Homo sapiens: one gene and its partners. The protein of the gene in region 2 purifies or fractionates together with the protein of the main gene of each other region. This does not show direct contact. Each region holds a gene or a part of one and is shown on either strand. Other genes may lie near its edges. The genes, in order: AHCYL2, VSX2, USP33 and WDR20.

Evidence for each region.
Region 1: the proteins of VSX2 (region 2) and AHCYL2 purify together in Homo sapiens (affinity purification with mass spectrometry; 3 studies listed by BioGRID and IntAct, with this or other methods). This does not show direct contact.
Region 3: the proteins of VSX2 (region 2) and USP33 purify together in Homo sapiens (affinity purification with mass spectrometry; 3 studies listed by BioGRID and IntAct, with this or other methods). This does not show direct contact.
Region 4: the proteins of VSX2 (region 2) and WDR20 purify together in Homo sapiens (affinity purification with mass spectrometry; 3 studies listed by BioGRID and IntAct, with this or other methods). This does not show direct contact.

The regions. Positions count from the first base shown.
Region 1 is NC_000007.14:129,403,028-129,410,057, forward strand, and holds part of AHCYL2 (adenosylhomocysteinase 3), read left to right. Parts: intron 1-351; coding exon 352-458; intron 459-2,069; coding exon 2,070-2,186; intron 2,187-2,808; coding exon 2,809-2,872; intron 2,873-3,350; coding exon 3,351-3,439; intron 3,440-6,448; coding exon 6,449-6,519; intron 6,520-6,830; exon of another isoform or gene 6,831-7,030. UniProt on the Homo sapiens protein: May regulate the electrogenic sodium/bicarbonate cotransporter SLC4A4 activity and Mg(2+)-sensitivity. On the contrary of its homolog AHCYL1, does not regulate ITPR1 sensitivity to inositol 1,4,5-trisphosphate.
Region 2 is NC_000014.9:74,242,439-74,249,468, reverse strand, and holds part of VSX2 (visual system homeobox 2), read right to left. Parts: intron 4,305-7,030; coding exon 4,181-4,304; intron 1-4,180.
Region 3 is NC_000001.11:77,756,853-77,764,255, forward strand, and holds the start of USP33 (ubiquitin carboxyl-terminal hydrolase 33), read right to left. Parts: upstream 3,001-7,403; 5' UTR 2,791-3,000; intron 1-2,790. UniProt on the Homo sapiens protein: Deubiquitinating enzyme involved in various processes such as centrosome duplication, cellular migration and beta-2 adrenergic receptor/ADRB2 recycling.
Region 4 is NC_000014.9:102,205,879-102,211,039, reverse strand, and holds the end of WDR20 (WD repeat-containing protein 20), read right to left. Parts: exon of another isoform or gene 2,438-5,161; coding exon 1,160-2,437; 3' UTR 513-1,159; downstream 1-512. UniProt on the Homo sapiens protein: Regulator of deubiquitinating complexes. Activates deubiquitinating activity of complexes containing USP12. Anchors at the base of the ubiquitin-contacting loop of USP12 and remotely modulates the catalytic center of the enzyme.

The DNA of each region.
Region 1 (7,030 bases), on a different chromosome or scaffold from region 2:
TACCTATAGTAGATTCAAGATCTAGTGGCCTAGTAACTACAAGTTACCAATCCATAAGAAAATCCTCGGTTAGTTGCTGTATATTTTGATACAGTAGATATGTCACGGGGAGGGTCGTTTGGCTGCGCGAATTACAATTGGCCTTTCTCCTCTCATTGTCTTTTACTTCAATATAATGACTATTTGGCAGATTATTGTATTTACTCTGGCTTTAAGTTACTTTGCATAACCATATGGGAAATTTTAAATATCTGTAAATTGCTAATTAGATTGGGATGCAAGACCCAGAGAAGCACTGAAGCCTTGAGACTTCAGCAAAGTGAATGATGTTATTGATGCTTACTATTGCAGATCTTGGATGATGGAGGGGATCTTACCCACTGGATTTATAAAAAGTATCCCAACATGTTTAAGAAAATCAAGGGCATAGTAGAGGAGAGTGTTACTGGAGTTCACAGGTAAGATTTGACATGGGCATACCTGGTTTTATGCAGTCTAGACATAAAATCTTATAAACACATACCTATAAAACACATGTTAAAAATTGGAGCCTGGGCCAGGCGCGGTGGCTCACGCCTGTAATCCCAGCACTTTGGGAGGCTGAGGTGGGCGGATCACGAGGTCAGGAGATCAAGACCATCCTGGCTAACACGGTGAAACCCCGTCTCTACTAAAAATACAAAAAAATTAGCCTGGTGTGGTGGGCGCCTGTGGTCCCAGCTACTCGGGAGGCTGAGGGAGGAGAATGGCATGAACCCAGGAGGCGGAGCTTGCAGTGAGCAGAGATCATGCCACTGCACTCCAGCCTGGGTGACAGAGCGAGACTCCATCTCAAAAAAAAAAAAAAAAAAAAAAAAAAAAAAATTGGAGCCTGCTATGAGGTAACCACATCTCAGCTTGCTATGAGGTGACCAGATCTCAGCTTGCTATGAGGTGAGCAGATCTCTCTTGTTTTTTTTTTTTAATTAACAACACAAATAATGAACCTAAAATAGTGAGAAGGGGGCAGGTGGGAGAACAAGTGAAGTCCTCATGTTTTCTAGTGATTGTAAACAATTAACTTGTCCTTTTTGGACACATATATTCATTCATTCATTCAACAAATATTTATTGAACTTCTACAATGAATGAGGAACTGCTCTAGATGCTAGGAATCTAGCAGTAGACAAAACAGACAGAAAAAAACTCTGCCATCTTAGAGCTTACATTCTTACATGGAGAGCAAGGATGTAGGGTTCTGCTTCTCAAATGAGTAATAATTCTCTGAGTAAAATTGGAATTATTTCAGTTCAATTTCTGTGATCATTTCTATGATTTATTTCACCCATAAAGAACTAAAAGTATGAAAAAAAAAAGTTGTAGGGAAGTAAATTCTGAACCAGCCACCATCACTGCTTCAATACATTATCATCTTTTTGAATGTACAAAACTGAGGTCAGGAGTTCAAGACCAGCCTGGCCAACGTGGTGAAACCCCGTCTCTACTAAAAATACAAAAATTAGCTGAGTGTGGTGGCGGGCGCCTATAATCCCAGCTACTCAGGAGTCTGAAGCACAAAAATCGCTTGAACCCTGGAGGCAGAGGTTGCAGTAAGCTGAGATCACACCATTGCTCTCCAGCGGGGACAACAAGAGTGAGACTCCATCTCAAAACAAACAAACAAACAATAAAAGCACAAACAGCCAGGCGTAGTCTCATGCACTTGTAGTTCTGGCAGGCAGGGAGACCAGTGCAGATTTAGTGAACATTGTACCTAGTAGGTAATTTTTCAACCTTCAACCCGCTCCCACTCTCCCACTTTTTATAGTCTCCAGTGAAGGCCTTAAAATTTAGAGGTGGGTCAAGGATTTCCCCCACATGACTTTTGAATAAAATCTTTATTGTGAAGCTATATATGCAGGCTCTAGAAAGATATTCTTTATTTCTCAGTGGCCACCTAACAGGATGAAACTAGTCATGTCTCATGGTCTCATGCCTACCCAATCAACGTATTTCTGGGGCCTCCTATGAAAGCAATGGTAGATTGTAATGTCCTGGTGTTTTTTGTTCTTGGCTTCCCTCATCCTCAGGCTGTACCAACTGTCCAAAGCTGGGAAGCTGTGTGTTCCAGCCATGAATGTCAATGACTCAGTCACCAAACAGAAATTTGACAACCTCTACTGTTGCCGTGAATCAATTCTTGATGGGTAATGTTTATTATCTTTGAGATGAAGTTGTGATGTCCAGTTGAGATTCTAAGTTTTTTGGCTTTGGTTATTTCTGGAAAGGATTCATGTAGCACCTCTGGATAATGTCTCCATAAAGCCAGAGCTTTGTCACCTCATAAATTAAAATTACATTATTTTTATTTTCTCCTTTGTATCTTTTCTATTTCTAAATATTATATTTTCAAAATATTATCTAATAAATGTATGTTGCTTTTATGTTTAAAAGTTACTGTGTTATCTACATCTTCTTCCTTTCTGCACCACTTGCAAGAAAGGGGAAAAAAAAAGGAAAAAAACCCTTACATATAGGATTGGTTAGATGGCAGGGAGTGAGAAAATATGTATTTTATTTAACCTTCCTGTCTGGTCATTAGTTTCTCTAGGATAGAAACCAGACTTTCAGTGTTACAGGTCTTTTAGAATTTGTCTAGCAGGTTTTCTGGTCTTTACCAGAAAACCCCTTTAAAAAAATAAAGAAACCAGACTTTCTTTCAAAATGAAAAACCAACCAAAAAACCCCATGAAAACAAAGAGATTCAATCTAACCTCAAGGGAGAAACAAGAGAAGATTTTTCTGATTTAATGTTTTTTTTTCCCCTAGACTTAAAAGGACAACAGACATGATGTTTGGTGGAAAGCAAGTGGTAGTCTGTGGCTATGGAGAGGTGAAGTTTAACCTTTTGTTTATTAGGTGTTTTAAATGGATTTTGTTGAAATATTCTGGAATTTTTTATTTGTATGGACATATGAGTACACCCTTTACCACTTTAGATGAGAAAAAGAATTTCAGAGGCCTTCTGGTTGAAGTAGACTTTCTTTTTCCCTTTGCGTTGCCGCCATTTTCCCTTAAGTTGATTTTCTGACTTGCTCCAGTACCACCGTTTGTGATGTTCTTTTTAGCTTGTGTTTTAATTATGAATCGTGAGTGTGGGTGTTCTTGTGCACATGAATGCGATAAGCAGGAGCCAGGGGTTTGTTTATGAGCTGCATTCAATTATTTGTTCTTCTCGTTTTCCCCAAGTATGAATCTATTCAGTGAAATTCCTCTCGGGGGTGGAAAGAGGGGGTGCACTTTACCAGAAGCTTTGAGAAATGGTTTTCTCAGTGACTTTCCTTAATATGTGTGCTCTCTCCCCTCTTCAGGTGGGGAAAGGGTGCTGTGCTGCCCTGAAAGCCATGGGCTCCATTGTGTATGTAACTGAAATTGACCCCATCTGTGCCCTGCAAGCCTGGTAAGCCTCTACGCTACCATCTCACTTGCAATCTCGGAGCTGTCTCCAAAGAATGGCCTGGTTGATGCCACACTTTATTTTAGAGGAGCCCAGATCCTCAGAGATGCTGCCACTAACTCTAAGCATCTGTCTTTTAAAAAGGTCAAGGAGCTCTGCTTGGAGAGAGCAGAGACTATCAGAAAAGCGAAAATTTAGAAATCCTGTGGAGATAGTAACAGGGATTCTGTCAGCCAGAGAACAGGTAGCCCCTTACCTTCTCCATGTATGATACTTGCCTTTCAAATAATGATCAGAAAAGAAATTGGCAGGCATCAGATGCCTTCTGATGTGTTACACTGAAAATAGCCCTTCTGTGGTATTCCTCCCAAAAATGTATAACCTGAATCTAATTGTGAGGAAACATTAGACCAATCCCAGTTAAGGGTAAAATCTACTAACTCTGAGTGAAGCATATATGAGAATTATTTACACTAGTATTATAATTCTTAAGTTTGAAATGATTCTAAAATTAAAAGTTAAAACTTTTCTTATCTATAAAATGTGTGTAATCATACCTACCTCATAGGATTGTGAGAGTTCAGTAAAATAATAATTAGCATAGGCTGGGTGTAATGGGTTCATGCCTGTAATCCCAGCACTTTGGGAGGCTGAGGCAGGAGGATTGCTTGCGCCCAGGAGTTCGAGACCAGCCTTGGCAACATAGGGAGACCCCATCTCTACAAATAATTTTTTTAAATTAGCTGGGTGTGGTGGTGCATGCCTGTGGTCCCAGCTACTTGGGAGGCTGAAGTATGAGTATCACCTAAGCCTGGGAGGTGGAGGCTGCAGTGAGTTGTGATTATGCCACTACGCTCCAGCCTGGGTGACCCAGCAAGACCATGTCTCAAAATAATTATTATTCTATATTATACATTATATAACAAATACATAATTATATAAGGTACAGAGCTGCTGCCACATAATATATGCTCATTAAATAATAGCTGTTATTAAAATTGTCTCTTGCCATCCTCAGCAGGGTGGGAAATACCACTGTTCTTAAAAACTATTGCAGAGTCCAAGTGTCTGTAGCCTAGGGGAACCATCATCCTTCTGGTACACTAAGAGTTTAGGAACCTGAACATATTTTAATACAAATTGATACTGTTCAGATACTGAACAGTTCAGATTATCCTGTTCAGATTATCCTGTAGACACGAATTGATCACTTACTATGCATTAGATACTGTGCTATGTGCTGAGAATGAATAAGATGAATATATAAATGAGATAAGGTCCTGCTTTTAGAAGCACACAGACAGATAACCACTGTGCAGCAAAGTAAGTGCTGTCATGGAGTTAAACGGCACATGCTTCTGTAGGAGCATAAAGGAGAAATTGCTTACTGAAGAGCAAGGGAGCAGGGTAGAAAGAGATGTCAGCAGAGCTGAGTCTTGACATTTGTATAGGTGTTTTCTTAGTTTGGAAGTATATTCCAGGTACTGGGAACATGTGTGTTGTCTCCAAGGAAGGAGATAGCATGGCAGATTTAAGAAGCTAGAAATATTTTAATGTAGTTGGCAGATGAAATACATTTGGGGGAGTGGTACTATCTAAGGTAGGAGTCATGGGAGTCATATGTCAATATAATCACATATCACTGTAAGTATTTGGGTCTTACTCTTATCCTGTCTTATCCTTAAGAACAGGCAGTCTCACTGAAGTATTTTAAGGAAAGGAAGCGACATGATCCAAATTGCATTTAGGAAAATCACTCTGCCAAATGATTTAGAAAGATGTAAACCTAGAGGCAATGAGATTGGGCCAGGGGTTACTATAGTAATCTAGGCAAGAAGTAATAAGACCTAAACTTAAGCAAGGCCAGTATGTATTAGAGAAGAGTAGAGAGATGAAAGAGACGTTTATGGAATTAAAGAAAAAGAGTCACCCAGATTTGGTGACAACTTCAATTCAGGAGAGGCAGCAAGGACATTCTTGTTTATATGGCTCATTCAGTTGGATGAACAGTGATGCTATTGATCAAGATAGAAAATATAGAAGAAGAAATAGATGAGATTATGGGTGCAGAGAAAATAATAAGTTTATTTTCAAACACAGTAAGTTTGAGATCCTTCTGGGACATTGATGAGGTGCTATCCAGTGGCTAATTTGATCCTTGGCTATGAAGCTTCAGAGAGATCTAAGCTAAAGTTACAAATGTAAAAATCAGCCATCTATCAGCAGTCATTTGCAGCCAAAGGAAGAGTATGGTTCTCTATACTGAAAGAATAGAGAAAAGAATAAAGGCATAACCCTGCAGAGCACCAATATCCAAAGGTTGGCTGAAGTTGAGGAGAGGCAATTAAGAGAAGTAAGAGGAAAACCAGGAGAGATGTATCATGGAGTCCAAGGGGTATAGAGTTTTAAGAAGGCAAATAATGTTTAATGTAGTAGAAGAAATCAAATAATATAAGAGTCTAAGAAGTTGGGCATGGTGGTGTATGCCAATAGTCCTGGCTACTCAGGAGGCTGAGGCAGGAGGATTGCTTGAGGCCAAGAGTTAGAGGCTGTAGTGCACTATGATTATGCCTGTGACTAGCTACTGCACTCCAGCCTGGGCAGCATAGTGAGATCCCATCTCTAAAAAAAAAAAAACACACACAGTTAAGAGTCTAAGAAATCTTGGGTTTGGCCTTCGGGGGATCACTGATGATCTTGGAGAGAGCAGTTTCAATGGGGTAGTTGGTTAAATGGCTAAGTGGCACTTTCTACAGTTTCTAGAAATTTGGTCAGGGAATCTCATGGTAGCCCCTGGCTCCCTATTATCAGGAAGAAATAAGTTCCGTGATGCAAACGAACCTTTTATTTCTGTCTTGTATGAACTAAGGAAATTGTTTGGATTTTTCACTTCTAAGAATAGTTCAGCTATCTCAAGAAATGACAGCAACTTGATATTAGCTTTTGAAGTCCTGTGTTAAAAGGCTCCCCAGCTGCCTGTTTAGGTTAATGGGTCATGCTTTATTTCAACAGTATGGATGGATTTCGACTGGTGAAATTAAATGAGGTCATCCGACAAGTGGACATTGTTATTACCTGTACAGGTATGATAATGACATTTTAAATGGGGTGGCACTTGGGAATGTTTTTATGGAGCAGGTGCAAGATGATTGGAAATATTCTGAAAAACCAAACTCTAAAAGCTAGAGAGAGATAGTAGCCCACAAAGCCAGCCAGTCTTTCACATTCTTCCTAATTCTTTAGAGCTCCGACCAAAGGTATACGATTAGGTTATTCCTATGTAAAAATGTTTCTCTTCACCCTTGAAGACAACTGTTATATCTCCATTCATCCTAGGAGATAGCTAGAGATGAGATTCACTTATAAAGTTTTATTTGGGAAGCCAGATATTTTTTTTTTCCAAAAATATATTTATTTTTAAAAACAGAAAATCAGATCAGTTTTATAGAGTCAAATTTTCAAGAGACAAACCAGAGTTTGGATTCCAGCTTAGAGTGCAAGTGAAGCATCAGTAATCTCATGCAGAAGATTTGTCTCTGCAGGAGGTACATTCTGCTTGACTGCAAGCACTCAATTCTCTAAATCTGGTTTGTA
Region 2 (7,030 bases):
GCAAAAACTCGTCTCTCTAAAAATACAAAAATTAGCCAGGCATGGTGGTGGGCACCTGTAGTCCCAGCTACTCAAGAGGCTGAGGCAGGAGAATTGCTTAAGCCTGGGAGGCAGAGGCTTCGGTGAGCCGAGATCACACCACTGCACTCCAGACTGGGTGACACAGTGAGACCCTGTCTCTAAAAAAAAAGAAGAAAAAGAGAAGAAACGAGGTATGGAAAGCACTTAATATCTGGGACAATGGTGAGTACTTAATAAATGCCAGTAACAACACTGTTTTTATTAAGTTAGCATTATGAAAAAATATTATTATCTTACAAATGAGTAATTTCAGACTCAGGGTTTGGCTTGCTGGCAGTGAAACAAAGACTGGAAGTAGGTGTGTCTGCCTTTCCGCGTCTACATCGCAGGTTCTCATCAGACATCAGACAGTAGACTTCAGACATGCAGGGGTTTCTTGGCTTGGCCCAGCAGGGGTGTATGCTCCAGCGGTCCATCTGGGCCTGTTAAACTTAACCTGCCCTGCACCCCCATTCTACCAATGGCAGCCCAGGGGCTTGTGGTGGGGGAATACTCAGGAGGCACCTCCCTGGAAGGGATCTCACCTCTTTCTTCTACAGATGGGGAAACTGAGGCTCACAGATGGGAAGTGGCCTAGCCTCTGCCACACCAGATGTCAGTTGGAGCTAAAATCCGGGTTCCTGATCTCCAGTTCAATAACCTTTCCATTCCAACTTGATAATTTCTCTCTGTTTTTTTTTTTTGTTCGTTTGTTTTTGAGACAGAGTCTCACTCTGTCACCCAGGCTAGAGTGCAGTGGTGCGATTACAGCTCACTGTAGCCTCTACCTCTTGGGCTCAAGTGGTCCTCCCATCTCAGCTTCTTGAGTAGCTGGGACCACAGGCTTACATCACCATGCTCGGCTAATTTTTAAATTTTTTTTTGTAGAGATGGGGATTTCACTATGTTGTCCAGGCTGGGCTCAAACTCCTGGACTCAAGGAATTCTTCCACCTCAGCCTCCCAAAGGGCTGAGATTACCGGCATGAGCCCCTGCACCTGGCCAGGAATTTCTTTTCTTTTCTTCCAAGACAGGGTCTCGTTTTTGGTTTTTTTTGTTTTTTTTTTTTTTTTTAGCCTGGTCTCAAACTGCTGGGCTCAAGCAATCCTCCCACCTCAGATTCCCAAAGTGCTAGGATTACAGGCCTGAGCCACTGCGTGGCCGAGAATTTCTAACTCCAGACTTGGAGCCAGTAATAACTTCCCCTTTCCTGCTCGTCTCACCTGCAGAGTCCTCTGACCCAAAGCTAGGCTGGGAGGGGGCTGGCTCAGGAGTGGCGGCCAACACGTGGAGGGGAAATGATGGGGAGGGAAGTCAAGGTAGAAAAGCAAGGGTTTTGGAGTCTAAAGAGACTCAACTCTGGCCTCTGTCTGTGCCTCAGGTTCCCCATCTGTCAAATGAGAGTAATAGCCCCTAGCTCATGGGTGTTCTGAGGACTCTGCTGAATATACATGAACTAGCTCTGTGAGGAAATGAAAGACACAGGTGGGCTGCTGGTCGAGGGAGGGCGAGGACTTGCTTTTCACCCTCTTGAATTCATGTACAGAATTTGCCCATTCAAAAATAATTTTGTTATATAAGTGAGTTTTGGGCTGTTTTTTTTTTTTTAAACAGTGCCTGGTACTCAATAAACATTGATTAACTTTACTGTGATACAGGTCCCCCGCCTGACTTCAAATCACCTATGCTCCCCCAGCTTCAAGTCAAAGCAAAGACTTCAAACAGAAGAGGTGGGCAGTGCCACTGTGGGCTTTCGATTCAGAGTTAGGTTTGAGTCTTGTGTCTCCCACTTACTAGCTGTGGGGCCTGGGCAAGAGGCTGTGCCTCAGCTGCCTCAGTTCTCAAAGGAAATTCATGGTCTTCAGCCCCTGATTGTCACCAGGACTTAATAAGATCAGATCTGACACCGAGTGAGCTGGGGGCACGTGCCAGGCACTGCCCTGAATGCTGCACACATATGGCTCATTACCTCCACACAAGAGGCAGGTGCCACTGTCACCCCCATTGTACAGATGAAGACTGAGAGGCTCTGGCATGTGAAGCCCGGCCAGGAGCCCAGCCAGTCTGGCCCCAGAGTCAGTGACCCTAACCATGGTACCACCCTGCCTGTCCTGTGTACATCGTGAACTCAGGAGAACACCTGGCACATGGAAACTCCTCTGGAAACGATCGCTGTGACTGCTATTGATGCACACCAAGATCTTTCCCAGGCCACTTTACTGAACTGGGGCAAGAGGACTTGACAACTCACAGACAGCTTCTGGGGGTAGCATTCAGGCATGTGGTGCTCAAAGGCTCTGAGACTCTTTCCTCATTTCTCCGATATCCACAAATTGCAGAGCCAATCCTCACAGTCCCAGGGCGATGAGCTCTCCTCATCCCACACCCCAAGCTCCTTCCTGCTGGTTCTGGTGCCCTCAGATACCACCTTATAGGCAACCCCCAAGCAACTTAACAAAGCCCTGTTAAGTTAAATGTGCCTGTTGGGGCATTCGTAGCAATGCAGTTACAGCTGAGGGAGAGCCTGCCCCCAAATCCTGAGCTCAGCAGGTTTCAAACACCTCATCCACCCTCCCCCACCTAATCTACCAAGCAGATTTCAGGACAACCCACTGCAAGAGACAAGCTATTCCTTCATTCTGGTCAATACCGCAAATGTGGGGCCTGCCAACAGCGGGGATTTGTCATTGCTCCTCCCTGCCGCAGCCACCTGGAATGGCCAACTTTATGCTAATGAAGGCCAGGCAGGGGTTACTGCCGTGCAGTTTAAGGCTTGGCTTACACACACGCACACACGTGCACACACACAATTCAACATCAACGCCCAGCTTACCTCACAAGAACCCAATTGGGTGGAGGGTAATGGGTCCAGGCCCCCATGGATAATGCACCAAACATAATCTGCTTATGAATAATTGAGCTTATTGTTAGTGTCAATGTCTAAAACCATCGGCTGAAATTCCAAATAGATTTCCAGGGGAGAGGAAGGCCTCACAGCCTCATTTCACATTCTCTGGTCCTCCAGTGAGAGAGTACAGAGCAACCCACACACCTTACTTGGCTCCCCCGGCCTCCCAGGCACACATCACACCTGGAGATACAAGGAACCTAGACTGGGGAGGAGACGCAGAGCAGAGCAGTTCCAGGAAGTCAGGACCAGCCCCTGGCCCACACACCCCAGCCTCCGCAATGAACTAGCTCTGGACCGCTCAGGCGATGGGAGCAGCTTTCATTGAAGGTTGAGCACCAGCTAAGACAACCCCAAATCTTCTGGAAATGTTCCTCCCACCCCACTCCTTCTGCCTCATGGAGGCCCTGCCCAGACTCCATCCTCCCCCAGAGAAATGATTCCACAGCCCTACTCCTGCCCAAGTAGGGGACTCTGGACTTGCCAAGGTCCTGCTGCCGCTAAGTGGAGGCCCCATGCCTACCACATGCCCAGATCAGTGGCTAGTTATGCCACAAAACTGCCCAGGAGAGGAGGAGGGCTTAGTGAGCCACCTGCAGGGCCATGCCCCAGCTCACATCCTAGGCCAAACCTGGGAGAAGAAAAGGAGCAGCAGGTCAGGGCAGCAGTTGCTGGGCTGTGTGTGGGAGGAAGGAGCCTTAGGTGGATGGAGTGGTGGGAAGCAGGAAGAGAAGGGGTAACACTTTCATCATGGGGAGGGGAGGAGAGGGGAGGGAAACAGACTGGGGTCAGGACTAGAAGCCACCTTCCTCTTCACAGCTACCCAGAGGCCTGGGGCACCCTCTGGCCTTGGAACAGACATTTAGCTGTACCAAAGGGACCTCCGCCTCAACAGAGACCCTGCCCAGGACCGGGGGCCCCTCCAGTACTCCACCTCTCATCCCCAGACCCCCGCAGGGTCTGTCTGACATACTCCCCGGGAAGCCTATAGTCTGGAACAACAGCCAGGTCACAACTGGGTGCTTCTCATCCCCCGACAGCACCCACCTCATGTGGCAGGTGTTCAGCTTAAATAGGCTGAGAACATGATCATAGGCAAGCACATGCCCACAGTGGGGCTGGGAGGCGGGGTCATGGGCATCTGGAACCCTGGAGTGGTAGATGTCACCGAGAGAGGGGAGAGTGGAGGGGAGAGGGGCTCAGGGCTGTTACCTGTATCCTGTCTTCCGGCAGCTCCGTTTTCATGGCCAGCATCTCCCGGGCATAGACGTCTGGGTAGTGGGCTTCGTTGAATGCCTTCTCCAGCTCCTCTAGCTGGTAGGAGGTAAAGATTGTCCTGAGGGGAGCAAGACCGAACACTCAGGACCCCAGAAACTAAAAGAGCCTGTCTCAGACAAGACAGAACCGCCTTCCTCTGTGTCTCCTGGGCAGGCCCCGAACCCAGGCTGGCTCAGCACAATAGGACACAAATTCTCTCTCTCTCTCTCTCTCTGTCTCTCTCTCTCTCTCTCTCTCTCTCACACACACACACACACACACACACACACACACACACTTTCTCTCTCTCTTTCACACACACACACACACACACACACACACACACACACACACACACACACTTTCTCTCTCTCTCTGTCTCATAGTTTAACCCTCCGGACTCTTCTTCCTCAAGGCTGAGGGCTCACACTACCCTTCCTGTGTTTGGGGGGTGGCCATTATTTCAGCCCTCAGTGACATTTCACACTGGGAATCTTTCTGGAGGTGCTCTGGGGGAAAGGCTGTCCCAGAAGAAGGACATTCTAGAAAAGCAGAAAGCCCCTCTTCCTCCCAAGCACAGAGAAGAGGGGCTTACCAGATTACTAAATAGCCCAGCTCCACCCAGACCAGCTTCCTGGGCCCCTCTCACAGTCACTAGAGCTGAATTTTTGAATGCCTTTCAAAGTTAGAAGATTCACCGGAAGGTCAAATGCAGCCTCAACCTCAGTGTTTATACAGCAGAGAACTGAATCTCCCACTCCCTCAACTCCCCCCAGCACCCCTTCCTCCTCCCCTGCCCTTCCTCGACATCACCCAGACCTACCAGCCTCCCAGCACTGCCCCGAGCCTTTTCCAGTCCTATTCTGTGCTGACAAGGGAAGGGCCACCTTCCAACCATCCCATACTTGCAAGCTCAGCCACTCACCTGCAGGGGGTTCCATTCGGGCCACCCTGAGAGCCCACAGGCACAGTTCCCCACCCCCAACAGAGCAGTTCATATGGATCTATTTTGTGTTATAAACTGCTTTAAGAATCTGGTAAAAACTACATTCTCTCACCTTAGGAAAATGGGCAAATAAATAGGCCCCAATTTGTAAAATTTTGCCTCCAACATTAGGGGATTCATAGGTCCTCTTTCTTGAATAAACCGCTAAACACCTACTTCCAGACACAAACTCTTCTCTTTTCAAACCTTAATTTCACCAGGTTTTGGGTGGTCTTTATCCTGAAACCTCATTAACAAGCCAACAGGCAATATAGTCCAGCGTCCACAAACTGAACTGGTAGAAATGGTCCAGCCCTTGCCTGGTCCCCTGGGATCAGACTCTGGCGCCAGCACAGGGGTGTAGAATCCCTTATTGCTGGGCCCTCACCCTCGTCTAACACAACCCAAAAGTACAGATTTGAACCTCACACAATCCTTGTGCTGGTGTCCACTTTAATATCTCGGGGGATAATTCAGGGAAGAAAGATTGTGCTCTTTGCAGAAAATGACTGGTTTGATTCTAAATCGTTTCTCCTATTCTCTGGGGGTGGGGGGTGATGATGTGAAATGCTTATGCACACACGAAGTTAATTCTTGAGAATTTTGAAGATCTGCTGCTTTTTCGCTTCTGCCATCTGCTGAAGGGCCCATGGACAGAGCATCAAAATAAACAATAAAGAAATTCAAGTCCTTTCCAAAACCAGGGAAACTGAGGCACAAAGGCAGTCAAAGAGGAGAGCCGATTATAGGTCATGTAGAACCATTCAAGTCTCAGTCCCTACTTCGGAGAGCCCCTCTTCAAAAAACAAAACAAAAACTCAAATCTCCCAAACTTTCCCTAATTCATGCCTCAGAGCTGACACACTTCCCCCATAATGTGACCCAGCCTGTGTTCCTGGTTTATGCAGAACCCCAGACCCTTCAGGCTCCTGTTGTGTCCAGTCTGAAGAGGAGCTGAGCTTTCCCAGTAGAGAGAAAGAGCAAAATCAGAGAGACTCTCACCGTGGCTGCTTTGTCCCCACGCCACCCCCCAAACGCTTTTAAGTCTGGTTTGTTTCTGGGAGATAAAAATAAGCCCATCTCTCATCACCAGATTCCAGGGTCTCTTACCCCAAATCCCCAAATGACAGAAGCTCGAGTAAAATGTATTTTTTCCTAATTAAAACAAGCACTTGAAATCCGTAGCCATTCTCCTCTCTCCAATAACCTTCTCCCTTCATGCAACAGAAATAGAAACCCCAGGCAGTTAATACCCGAGTGTTGGTGAGTTGCTGTTCTGCCCCCATGAAAACCCACCAAAACCCCCAAAGGTGTTCCTGGCGAAGAGAGTGACAGATGAAAACAGACGGTCACTAAGTGCCATGCAGTGAGATGTCCTGATGCGGAAATGCCATTCCTGTACCCAGGGTTTGGGGATGCTTTTTCCAGGGCTCTCCATGCTGTGGGAACCCCTCCCACCCCTCCTGGCACCAGCACAAGGGCAGTTTTGCCGGTCTCTGACCTGCCCTCCCTGCAAGGTCCCTGTCCCTGCCTGGGGAAGATGACAAGATTACCCACCCTGGGACCCGCGTAAGATGGGTGCATAAAAAGTGTTTTAATGAATATTCGTTGAATGAATTGAATGTAAAAAAAAAAAAAAAAGACCAAAGATCAAGACCAAAAAAATTTTTCTTTTTCCTTTTAAAATAAAACAATACAAACTAAACAAATGCAAACAGCTGCCGGAAAAAGAATAGACCGAGATCCGGAGAAACCAAGTCGAAGTTCACCTGCATTCAAGCCAAAACCTATTAGGGCCTAAGGGGTGAGGATAGGCCGTT
Region 3 (7,403 bases), on a different chromosome or scaffold from region 2:
AATCTAGCTTAACATAAAGCCACCCCAGCAGTCTTCCAGTCTCAATCTTCTAACAGTTACAGCTCATTTTCCTTTCATGTGGATCACATACCTCTTCTGATCAAACACCTTCAGTGAAGTCTTTCATAATTTGTCTTCTTTATCTATTATTAACTTACATAAACTATGAATATCAGCCACATTGTTCTACCGATGTTTTCTCAAATGTAAGTTGTACCCTTCAAGGAGCTCATTAATCTGTTCACATTACAAATATCCTCCAATATTTACCTTTCAAAGCTCACTCATCTCAAATACTACCTTCACCAAGCCCCAATCACAAGTAATGTCTACCTCACCTAAATTCCTAAGGAACTTTTATAAAAACTCATAAGGCATTTACTGTTGTGTAAAAAATTGCCTCACTTGACTACAAGTTCTTTGAAGGCAGAAACCACGTTTCATTCTTTTTGTTTTCCAAAGGGCCTTGTCCTGGTAGACTCAAAATATTGACCTAACTTAACCTTCTGAACATTTGACAGCATGATTTATTTTGATATACATATTGTTTCTTAAAGACTAGTTCTCAGTATACAATATAGCACATAATTCATGTGCCTTTTTATAGATAGTTAAAAGCAACTGTACTCATCTCACACTCTTTGGAGTTTTCCCACTTATCAAAATGTTCCTGCAGACACATGTACACTTTTAAAGTTTAAAAACTACACTAAATAGAGCTGTTACTTATTCCCTTCCTTTTTAGAAATGGTTACATTTCACATTTCTCACCAAAAATCTTTCAGCATTTTATGTACTTCATTTTCTTGTGAAGAGTCCACAGTCTTGTCATATGTTATAGTTCACAGTGCTCCAATCTTAATCTATCTGAATTCCCAATCTGTATCAAAAGCTGCTTTGGCAACATTATTTCAGGCTTTACGAAATTCTGATCCTTACACAATCTTGAAATGTTTCTGTCATGGGGAAAGACTTTATTTCTTGGCATTCGGAGCTCAGAGGACTGGCATGAGGATCAAGTAAGACTGTGTAAGTGAAAGGTCACAGAAAATTCTAATACTACTACATAAATGTAAGAATTATCATCTCAATTCTGAATTTCAAATATTTAAAATCACCTATTTACTACAATCTAATGTCATTAAACTGCAGTTATATAAAAAGACTTGCTTACTGTTAAGTTATAAAAAGTTCAGAAAAGACAGAAAAAAAGTGAAACTGGCCATAAACCAGATCATAAATAGGAAGCAATCTTAAGTAGACTATCCCTCTTGCACATATCAGGTCAAATATTTTATTCCAATAATATTTTTTGTACTGTCCTTTTTTTTTTTTTTTTTTTTTTTGAGACAGAGTCTCGCTCTGCTGCCCAGGCTGGAGTGCAGTGGCATGATCTCGGCTCATTGCAAGCTCTGCCTCCCGGATTCACGCCATTCTCCTGCCTCAGCCTCCCAAGTAGCTGGGACTACAGGCACCTGCCACCATGCCCGGCTAATTTTTTGTAATTTTTAGTACAGACGGGGTTTCACCGTATTACCCAGGATGGTCTCGATCTCCTGACCTCGTGATCGTCGGCCTCCCAGAGTGCTGGGATTACAGGCGTGAGCCACCGTGCCCAGCCCTGACCTTTCTTTCAATCCTGCCAAAGTAATGAAATAATACAAAGCTCCTAGCATTGTGTAACTATTTCTATTATTTTTTCATAAAACTAGCATTGTCTTTAAGATTCCTATTTTCTCTCTTATTTATAATAGTATGAATTCACTAACAATATTTGTATTATGCTCAAATCAAATAGCCTATGACGATAATGTGACTTGGTCAGACCTTTCCAAATAAGACAGTAGGAAAAACGGAACTAGGACGGCCTTGTTACTTTTTGTAACACGTTTTTCTTAAAGGAAAAATAATCTGATTAAACTTAAAAATTCTCTACATCCACATAGTTATTAAGCAAAAGGCCTAGAGATCGTTACGGTAAAATTCACCTTCAATTTAAGTCTATGCTCCTGCCAGAATTTCACCCTCTGGCTCAATTTTCCAGGCCTAATACTGATTCTATGAGAATGTAAACTCCAACGGTACTTGAGTGCAAAACACCCAGGAAAATCTCATCGTCCAAGAGCTCAACGTAAAACCCTGTAAATATTCAAATGAAGAGCGTTTTGTATACGAGAAATATAAGTAAAGGTCTGGGAAACCACACACTATGGATCTTTCATCCAAACAAAGGCTGCAGATGGACAGAAGGTAAGGGGTAACCTCTCAGTCAAGATCAAACATTGGTCGAAGAAAAATTCCAGGGACGATGACACCTCGGTTTTTCCGTTCACAACAACAAACAACGGGGCCGGCCCCCTCAACAGCGCCGAAAAGCGAAACCAGAACCCAGGAGCCGGCGCGCTGCAGGGCTTTCAGTCACCCACTGAGAGGGACTGGCAAGCCTGAGTGGGGAGACCGAGGAAGGGAGCAGAGCCCCCGCTTCTCGGGCTCACCTGCACCTCCCGCTTCCAGGGAAGAACCCCTGAGGACCCTTCCTCAAATCAACGACCGGTTCCCATCCTCCACCGACCGTTGACAGGGCGACCACTAGATTATCTCTGCAACGCAGAGCACCGAGGGGCCAAGGCCTTCTTCCCGCCCGCGAACCCGCCGCCACCCAGGACCAAGAAAAAGAGGCTGCTGCAGCGGCCGCAACCCCAGCGCGCGGAAGCGAGAACAGAGACCGGACCCCGGACGCGAGCGAAACGCCCTTGGGCCCCGCGCCCCTCCCAGCAGCGCCGCGCTCACCTCCACGGCCTGGCCCGCGGGACCCGCCAGCTCGACCAACAACGGCCTGCAGCCGCACCTCCGCAAGCTCCTCTTTTCCTTCTCAGCTCTCGGAGAGGGGCAGTGTCGCGTCAGGAGGGCCGGAAAACGGCCCCGCAGCGCTGCCCTCGGGGGGTCCGCCTCCTGAACTGGCCACTTCCCGCAGCAGCCGCGGCTCCTTCCGGTGTCTCCGGGGCCGCCGCAGGCGTCTCCGGCGATAGGGGAGGTGGGGGCGGAGCCTCGATGGGAGCCCGCCCCAGGGGCGGGGCCACGGGAGCCAGGCCCAGGTGCGGGGACCCAGGCCGGCTCCCTACTCTGACTGCAAACTAACTGTACAGGGTATGTGCAGCAGTTTGAGGCTGTGAGCTTTTTTTTTTTCGTTTTTCACATGTTTTCTCCTTCTCTTTCACAGTCACACACTACGACCATTATAAGGTCTTGTCTCGATGCATTACAAAAACTGCATTAAGGCTGGCCACTGAAGGGCCTCAGGTTTCCAAACTTGAGCAAAGAAATATTAGACTTAACTTATCCCAATTCAACATTGTATTTCCTCCTTTCATCTTTCTTCCCCCAACTTCTTAGGACCTAGATTCTCTGAAAGCAATTATGTTTCCCTTTTCCACCTATGCAAAGAAGAAATTTATCTCACCATTTTCTCCTTAGGCTAAAATCAAGAGGATCAAATCAAATATTTATTGAAACCTTAGTATCTGCTTAATGCCTGGAGCATGGAAGGAGTCCTGCCTTCTAATTATGTAACTGTTAAAATGCACTCGATTGAGGTTCAAATCTATGAATAAAAAAGGTTATATTAATAAAAAATTGTTAAAATTGCCAGTTTCAATCTGTCTCATGACATCTGACTTTTTGGTCTCCAAAATGGGAGCATGTACCAAAGTATCATGCAAGATGCTCAGTCTCCATTGGAATAGGTAGAAAATATAAAAGCTTCTACTTATTTTTATGGTAAAAATGAAATAAATTAACCATGATACAAAATTCTAGGTAGGGATTGACACTCAGGCCTCAATTTGCACCACAAATGATTGCCTATCCTCGGTTCACTGAGGAGAATAGAAATTTCACAGAATAGAAGTTTCACAGGCAGGCGCCATGGTTCATGCCTGTAATCCCAGCACTTTGGGAGGCCGAGGCGGGTGAATCACTTGAGTTCGAGACTAGCCTGGGCAACATGGCGAAACCCCATTTCTACTAAAAATACAAAAATTCGCCAGGCATGGTGACAGGCACCTGTAGTCCCAGCTACTCAAGAGGCTAAGAGTGGAGGATCACTTGAGACCAGGAGTTTGAGGTTGCAGTGAGCCATGATTGTGCCACTGCACTTCAGCCTGGGTGACAAAGTGAGATATTCTCTGGGAAAAAAAAAAAAAGATGCCGTTAGGAGATGAAAAGTTGTCTCCAGCCGGGCACAGAGCCTCACACCTGTAATCCCAGCATTTTGGGAGGCCAAGGCGGGTGGATTACCTGAGGTCAGGAGTTCAAGACCAGCCTGACCAACATGGTGAAACCCCCATCTCTACGAAAAATACAAAAATTAGCCAGGTGTGGTGGCGCGTGCCTGTAATCCCAGCCACTCAGGAGGCTGAGGCAGGAGAATTACTTGAACCCAGGAGGCAGAGGTTGCAGTGAGCCAAGATAGAGCCACTGAACTCCAGCCTGGGCAACAGAGGAGGACCCTGTCTCAAAAAAAAAAAAAAAAAAAAAAAAAGCTGTCCACAGAGGAGATCTACAGAAGAAAAAAAAAGAAGAGAGACAGAGAGAGAAGAAAAGTTAGGCCAGCAAATAGAATTTATTTGAAATACATATAATTGAAAAGGGGCTCAACTCCATATGTATTTCCAGAAATCAATTTTTAAAAAAACAGGCGACCAAATAGAAAAATAGACAAAAGTCACTTCCCCAGAAATTCTTCTATTGAAAATGTATCAGGGGTATTCTGTTCTTACAGTGTCCTAGCAAATTCAATTCAGCCTCCAAGTCCCACCACCATCCTGCTTAGTAACCAAGGTTCTCTCTGGGCTTACCTGTCCTGGAGGAGTTCTAGGGCAGTGTCAATGCAAGGAAGACAACTGACAAGGCTGTTCAAGATCACCAGGTGCGGTGGCTCATGCCTGTAATCCCAGCACTTTGGGAGGCCCAGCAGGGCAGATCACCTGAGATCGGGAGTTTGAGACTAGTGCGTAGATAATAGTAGGCAAGTACTTCTCAGGTGGACACCAAGTGAAGTCCTTGCAGTGGACAAGTTCTCACAAAACAAACTCACTCTGATAGAATATAATGTAATACCTCTCCCACTTTTAACTTCCGTGAATTCCTGCCTCCCACCCTTGGGTGTTTATCCTTTCATCCCACAGTCCAGATTGCTTATCTTTTACTTTTCTTCAAACAATATCTCCTGATGGCTTATAATGGCTTATAAGGAAGAACACTATCATTAGGAAATAAATCAATCAACTTCCCCTTGAGAGAATAGATTATACATTCCAAAGTGTGGACACCCAGCTGAGTCACTGATTCTGGAGTAGAATTCTAGAGGGTGTGTGGACACCCAGCTGAGTCATACTGATTCTGGAACAGAATTCTAGAGGTGCCGTTCATGGAGAATATAATGTAAATAGTATGACTTAGAGTTGTGCATCAGGCCAGGTACTGAAGTCTCTTCTAATGAAAGGGAGAAAAAAGAAGAAATGAAGAGTAGGAAGAAAAAGAAGAAAAGAAGTCTCTTCTAATGAAAGGGAGAAAAAAGAAGAAATGAAGAGTAGGAAGAAAAAGAAGAAAAGAAGGAGAGATACAAACAGGGAGGGAGGAAGACAATTGAATGGTCCTATCAAAAACAAATACCTTCTCATTTTTGTAACTGAGTAATGGCAAGTAAAAAATAGCAACGTAGAAAATATACATTTTGGTGCTTATGTACCTGAGACTAAATAAAGCTTTGTAAATGCTGTTTCCTTAGAGACAATTTTACAGATACTCCCAACCTCTATCCTTCCTTCACCTGGCTAACTCCTACCTAGATATTCTCTGTTTAATACAGAACTCTTTACCCCATTATTTCCGGTTTCAGCATCCTGCTTGCTTCCTTTAGAGAATGTATTATAATTTGTAATTATCTTAAATTTTTTGGTATACTTAATTTTTTGCCTGTCTCTCCTGAACTCCTCAATGGGAGCAGTGAGTATTTATCTTATTCACAATATTCCCAGAGCCTAGCATTGAAGGACTCAAAAACTTGTTGGCACTCAACTGGGGGTGGTTTTGTCCCCTGAGTGGATAGTTGGCAATATTTCTGAAGAGGATTGGTGGGAGAAAGAATTAGTAACATTCCTTTGCATTGATATTACAAGAGAGTCCCAGACATCATTAATGCCACTATTGAGAAACTCTGATTTAAGCTGGGGCTTTAAAATATGTCTTTGGGCCGGGCCCAGTGGCTCACGTCTGTAATCCCAGCACTTTGGAAGGCCGAGTTGGGCGGATCACCTGAGATCAGGAGTTCGAGACCAGCCTGGCCAACATGATGAAACTCCATCTCTATCAAAAATACAAAAATTAGCTGGGTGTGGTGCAGGTACCTATAATCCCAGCTACTCGGGAGGCTGAGGCAGGAGAATCGCTTGAACCCGGGCGGCGGAGGTTGCAGTGAGCTGAGATGGCACCACTGCATTCCAGCCTGGGCAACAAGAGCAAAACTCTGTCTCAAAGTAAAATAAAATATGTTTCTGGGCAGGGCGCAGTAGCTCATGCCTGTAATCCCAACACTTTGGAAAGCTGCGGCTGCTTGAGACCAGAGTTCAAGACCAGCCTGGGCAACATGGCGAAACCCTGTCTCTACAAAAAATTGCAACAATTAGCCGGGCATGGTGGATCATGCCTGTAGTCCCAGCTACTATGGAGGGTGAGGTGAGAGAATCACTTGAGCCCAGGAAATTAAGACTGTCATGAGCCATGACTGTGCCACCCCTCTCCAGCCTGGGCAATAGGAGTGAGACCCTGTCTCTCAAAAAACAAAAACAAGAACAAAAAAAAAAGAAAGAAAGAAAAGAAAAATATATTTTAAAACAAATCTTAGGCAAAGCATTTTTGCTTTTCCGCTCACTGTCACATAATTAAAAAGTCCACCAGGCCAGGTGTGTTGGCTCATGCCTATAATTCAACACTTTTCAAAGCCAAGGTGGGAGGATCAGTTGAGCCCAGGAGTTCGAGACCAGCCTGGTTAACAAAGTGAAATTCTGCCTCTACAAAAAATTTTAAAAAATAATACCAGGATACGATGGCACATGCCTGTAGTACAGCTACTCCAGAGGCTGAGGCAGGAGGATCCCTTGAGCCCAGGAGTTTGAGACTGCAGTGAGTGAGCTATAATCGTGCCACTGTACTCCAGCTTGGTGACAGAGCAAGAGCCTCTCTGTCAGAAAAAAAAAAAAAAAAAGTCCTCCAGTAATTTTCTAGTAATAAAAAAAAGTGGCCTTTTGCCCCTAGTATTAGAAAAAAATCCTGTCCAGTGCAATATCAAAAATTCTCTGCCATTTCCTCTACCTTGTTCTCCCTTCTCCCTGGCTTATTGGCTT
Region 4 (5,161 bases), about 28 Mb from region 2:
GAGGAAGCCACAGGCCACCAGGTCCTGGGCTGAGGCGCTAGGGTGGGAGCCACTGAGGACGAAGCCTACGCACATGGCCAGCGTCAGCATCCCAAGAGTAATCCCGGAACCACAGCTGCCATCCAAGAACAAGGAGAGGGGAAACCTGCACTTCCGCTTCCTCTGCGGGGGACGAAGCCCAAACGAGGGCCATGTCAGGGAGAAGTCGGAAGACTCGGGGAGTCTCAGGCTTTACGAAACAAAGCGCGGAGGAGTCACGTGCCTTTCTGACCCAATCCCCCTCCCCCACCGCACCTCCCCGCCCCCGGCAAAAAACCAAAAAACTCCTTTTCCCTTGTTGGGAAAACACACAAGCAAAGTGCATCTGAAGAAAAGGTCTTCGCTTATGTGGCAAGAGGCACTTCTGCAATGCTGTTGGCGTCCTCGGCCCGCAGTTCCCACGAACTGTCAGGCTCTGAGTGAGGTACGGGTATCTTAGTACACAGAACCTCAATCAAAGTGCTACAAACTGCTTCTTTGAAAAAAGATGTTTATTAAACAACTTTAATTGTCATAAAATGACTAAAATGGGTTTTAAAAATTAAGGCTCTTCTCTTTCTGTGGATTGCCAGAACAATGTAAAAATAATATCAATCAACCCTGCTAAACGTTTTGTTCCTAAAGTTAAATTTCATAGATTCCTAAACATTTTATGATTAAGATAAAAAATTGGACTATAAATGACAATTCATGGCCATCTGTGCTGAACACACATTGATCAGGTGTACAATATTCTAATTGAGTAGTTAAGCAAAAAATATTCCAGTTAAAGCATAAATTTTAATTTCAGCATTTTAAAGTCATTGTTTCCCCACATGGTCATGATTTTCCTAAAATTGAAATAGTCTAATACAGGAGCGCTAACCTTGGGACTCTATATACTCCCAGGAGGATGACTGACTTGGCTGGCAATTAGTTTGATTATATTTTTTTAAATGCTCTAAGGTAAATTATCAAATGATTCAGAATTACATGGCATGCAGTATCCAAAATTATGGCTCTGATGCATTGAGATTTACATTAAGAATAAGAAGTGTCATTCACATTCATTGTACACCCCACCCCTCCCACGAAAAAGAAAAAAGTCACTACCTATTCAAGTTCTAGATCTGGTGCAGCATTAAGGATTAAAACTTACCACTTTACCAGGCCTTCCCCATGTGCAAATAAATCCCTCCTGACAAGCAGTGACTATACAGTCTTCAAGAAATATTAGTACAGTCAGTCTCTCATGTGCTATCTTTTTACATATCAGCGGCTCTAACAAGGGAACATCTTCCATTCGAGGACACAGGGGCGTTCCCAGAGTTTTAGCAGGGTCCGTTTTGGTTTTGGTAACTAGATTCAGTTTGTCACTGCTCTTGCTAGAAATGTGTCCCATGCTATGATTTCGCTTGTGATCTTTCTCGTGGTGCCTCTCCTTCCGGTCATGTAGTGAAAGTGTTGCAAATTTGCTGACCCCAGAAGCAATGGCCCCGTCCATGACACTGCTTTTGCTGCCAGCATTTGAGACTGCTGAATGTGGAAGGCTGTTGGACCGTGGCAGAGGAGGCGGCACAGAGTTCCCGGGTGTTGTAACACTGTTCCCATTGCTTCCAGCAGGAGGACTCGTGGCATTCATGACATTTGTGTGTGTCCTTGCTCTTGAGAGGGGTTGGTGAGGGAAAAGGATATCTTCTGTAAGGTCCCATAAACAGAGCTGTGTGTCCTGGCCCACGGAACCAAACCGATACGTGACACTTACGGGGCGGCTGTCTGTAGAGTTCCGTTTGGAGAGCCTGGACTGTGTACTATTTGCTCGATCTCTGCCAAAATGAAGAAGGTCTTGGAAGTCCTCATCGCTGCCACTAAACTCCATAGGGTCACCTTCTTCTACACTAGTGGTATAAGGGTCAAACGCTACAACACTGACCCAGGACTTGTGCCCGTGGCCTCTGGCTATTACTCGGCAGTCTACAAAGGACCAGACTGTCACCAAGTCGTCCTCCCCACCTGTCACGATGTACTTGCCATCCGGGCTCCAGCACACACACAGCAAGCCCCCAAAGTAGCTTTTCATCGTACCGTGCAGCTCCACTGAGTCAAAGTTGAACACCCGCAGAAACCCGTCCTGGCTCACGCACGCTAAGAACTTGCCATCTGGGGAGAAAGCAAACTCGTTGAGGGCCCCCTCGCCCACCGTCCACTTAAGGAGAGGGTTCCTCGTGGATTTGCTCTTGCAAGTGTGCACGGCAAAGCTCTCTCCCTGCTTCAGAAGCTGGTAGTGGGGGGCTGTGGTGCCACAAGTGTGCTCCACATTATATAAGTACATGTTCCCACTCGAGTGGGCTACTAGGAAAAGGCTTTCCGAACCGGGAACCCATTTGACACAGGTAACTCGTGACTTGTCTATTAGTCTCTGTGAAGACAAAGGAGAACAAGTTAGCACAACGGAGAAGTCTCAAAGGTCTACTTTTCCAGCAAGAAAACTTGTGTGCTTCTCGATGGGAAGGGGCAAGTCTATCCAGGCCCTCCACATTTTATCCTGCAGTCAGCCAAGCCAGCAAGGAGCGTTTTGGCCCTTTTGGGGTAATTTAGAATTACTTTCTAAAATCGGTGTTAGGCTGCTGGCTTTCACGGAGGGAGTCAGGCAGCCAACAGATATTTGCAGAGGGGCCACTAAGTGCCAGACACGATGCCAGGCACAGGGTTCACTGCGGAGGGAACAGCCCTGCTGGGATCTTTCTTCCTTGACAGTAGGTGCATCTGAATCTGGGGGTCACTGCATCTGCATGTGGTATCCCCTCTACGAGGACCTGCAGGTGAAGCCTGTGAGTCCTCACAGCCAGGAGGGCTCTGCCTCACCCTCACGGGTTCCTCTGCCTTTACTGTCACTGTAGGTAATGGGCTGGTTCCATCTGCCCCTCTGCTCTGGCGGCTCGAAGGTGGGGAGTGAAATCCACAGTCCATGGCTGGCAGCACACACAACTCCAAAACAGAGCCTGGGCCCACTGAGGCCGCCTCACTCCCATGCACCGCCCCACGTGCATCTCCATAAGCATCTCCTCGAAACCCTCTCTGCTGGTGTTGAGAGAGATACACTGACGATTCATTCGGGAGTGTGTGTCTCATTACCATCACTCTGCTCCATATGCTAACTTTGGACCCCTGACCGAGATGTTTCTTTAACAGGCGTATGTCAGTAGTCTTGCCTTTAAAACCCAAATAACGAAGGGCAAAAATACCTGCCCCACCAAAGGCACAAGTCTCTTTCCCTGCTTGCCAATCAATCCTGTGATGGGGATGCCAGCGCAACACCTTCCACAGGGGCGGTCCCTTTCTGGACCGTCTGAGCGCAAAATCGCATCACCAGAACACATCCAGAAGTCCCAAGACTCCCAAGTTCTACCTAGAAGCTCCTACTGCCAAGTGCTCTCCACTGCACCATCGCCCCAGTAACAGTGTCCCTTTAGGAGCCCAGCAGCCCCAGGTAAGTTGAACACCACCGCTTCACCTAACAGGTGGGGAGTCCCTGACTCAAGTCTCAGAGGGGTACTGGGCACACAGGGGCAGAATCTGCCAAGAAACATGCCGACTTCTGCCAGGGTGGCTTTGAGGCCATGTGCCCGCCATGTGTGCTACATCTTTACAGAGAATTACAGAAATAAGACGACTTGATTTTTAAAAGAACGGCTGGGAAAGAAATTAATGAGCCATGCAAGCTCACTGCATGAACATTAGACCCTAGAAAGTAGGCTGCTAACAAAGGACCCCAGGCAGGAAGAACGGAGGCCTGAACGCCACACAGCATGCGGGCCCAGGGCTGGGGACCATGCATTGGGCAGTTACTCAGCAGCAGGTGTCACTGCTTACTGCCGTAAAACGGCATGGCTGGTCCTCTTAAATTAATAGGCACGTGGCAAGCCAGCCTTGGGGACACAGCCAGTATTTTCATCCCCCACCTCCTCTTTATCCTCCTGCCTGGTGACCTACCTATAAACAGCACCTGACCTGCACTAATGCCAACAACCTAAAACCCAGCGCTGCTCTGGCAGGATTTCCATTAGACCTTCGTGCAATTTTCTCAGCAAGGGGTTACAGAGATAATTTACATGGCCAGAGCAGGGCTTTTTTTTGATGGTGGAGGGAGGTGCAAGGATGATGGGATGGTGAACGGTGGATTAAGAGGCCTCCACTCCCCCATCACAGCTCTGCCAGACCTTGCTGTGCCCACTGGGCCCAGACTACCCCAGCACTCTTGATCCCACAAACACAACTGTACCTGATCGCCCAGGGCCTAAGGGTGTCTGCAGCTCGCTCCATCACTGGCCTTGTCAGGCAGGCCTACACCAGCTAACTCAGGCCTGGGAAGCCAGACTGCTGTCCTGATTTTGGTACAGTGGCTCCCAATTCCTGCACCTTACATTTCACCAGAACCAAATCAAATCCCAGTTTTTCTAGGATCACTTCATTGTTACTCTATTTACCATGTGTGGAGAAATTTCAGGACATAAAAACTTCTAGCAGCACGGTTAGGAGTAAATTTTATTTTGGGCCTTAAAAAACACAACAAAAAACTGCATGAGAACTCAAAAACTAGTATGATCAAGTAAAAACAGTATTGCTTTGCAATAGTGAGGTATGAACAGCATTTATAGCACCATTAAAAATAAATGTTACTGCAATGACAAAACACATTAAAAACCTTCACTCCCGTATTAAGAAGCTGCACTGTGGCCAGGCGCGGCGGCTCACGCCTGTAATCCCAGCACTTTGGGAGGCCGAGGAGGGTGGATCACTTTAGGTCAGGAGTTCGAGACCAGCCTGGCCAACATGGTGAAACCCTGTCTCTACTAAAAATACAAAAATTAGCTGGGCATGGTAGTGCGAACCTGTAATCCCAGCTGCTCTGGAGGCTGAGGCAGGAGAATCACTTGAACCCAGGAGGCGGTGGCTGTGTGCAGTGAGCCAAGATCACGTCATTGCATTCCAGCCTGGGCGACAAAGTCAGACTCCATCTCAAAAGAAACAACAACAAAAAAAAACAGTGCACTGAGACGACCCTAAGTAGACACATGGATGTAACTTACAGATAACATCCTGTGCCAATCTACTTCAATCCCCCTGTGGGGGCCTAATTAAA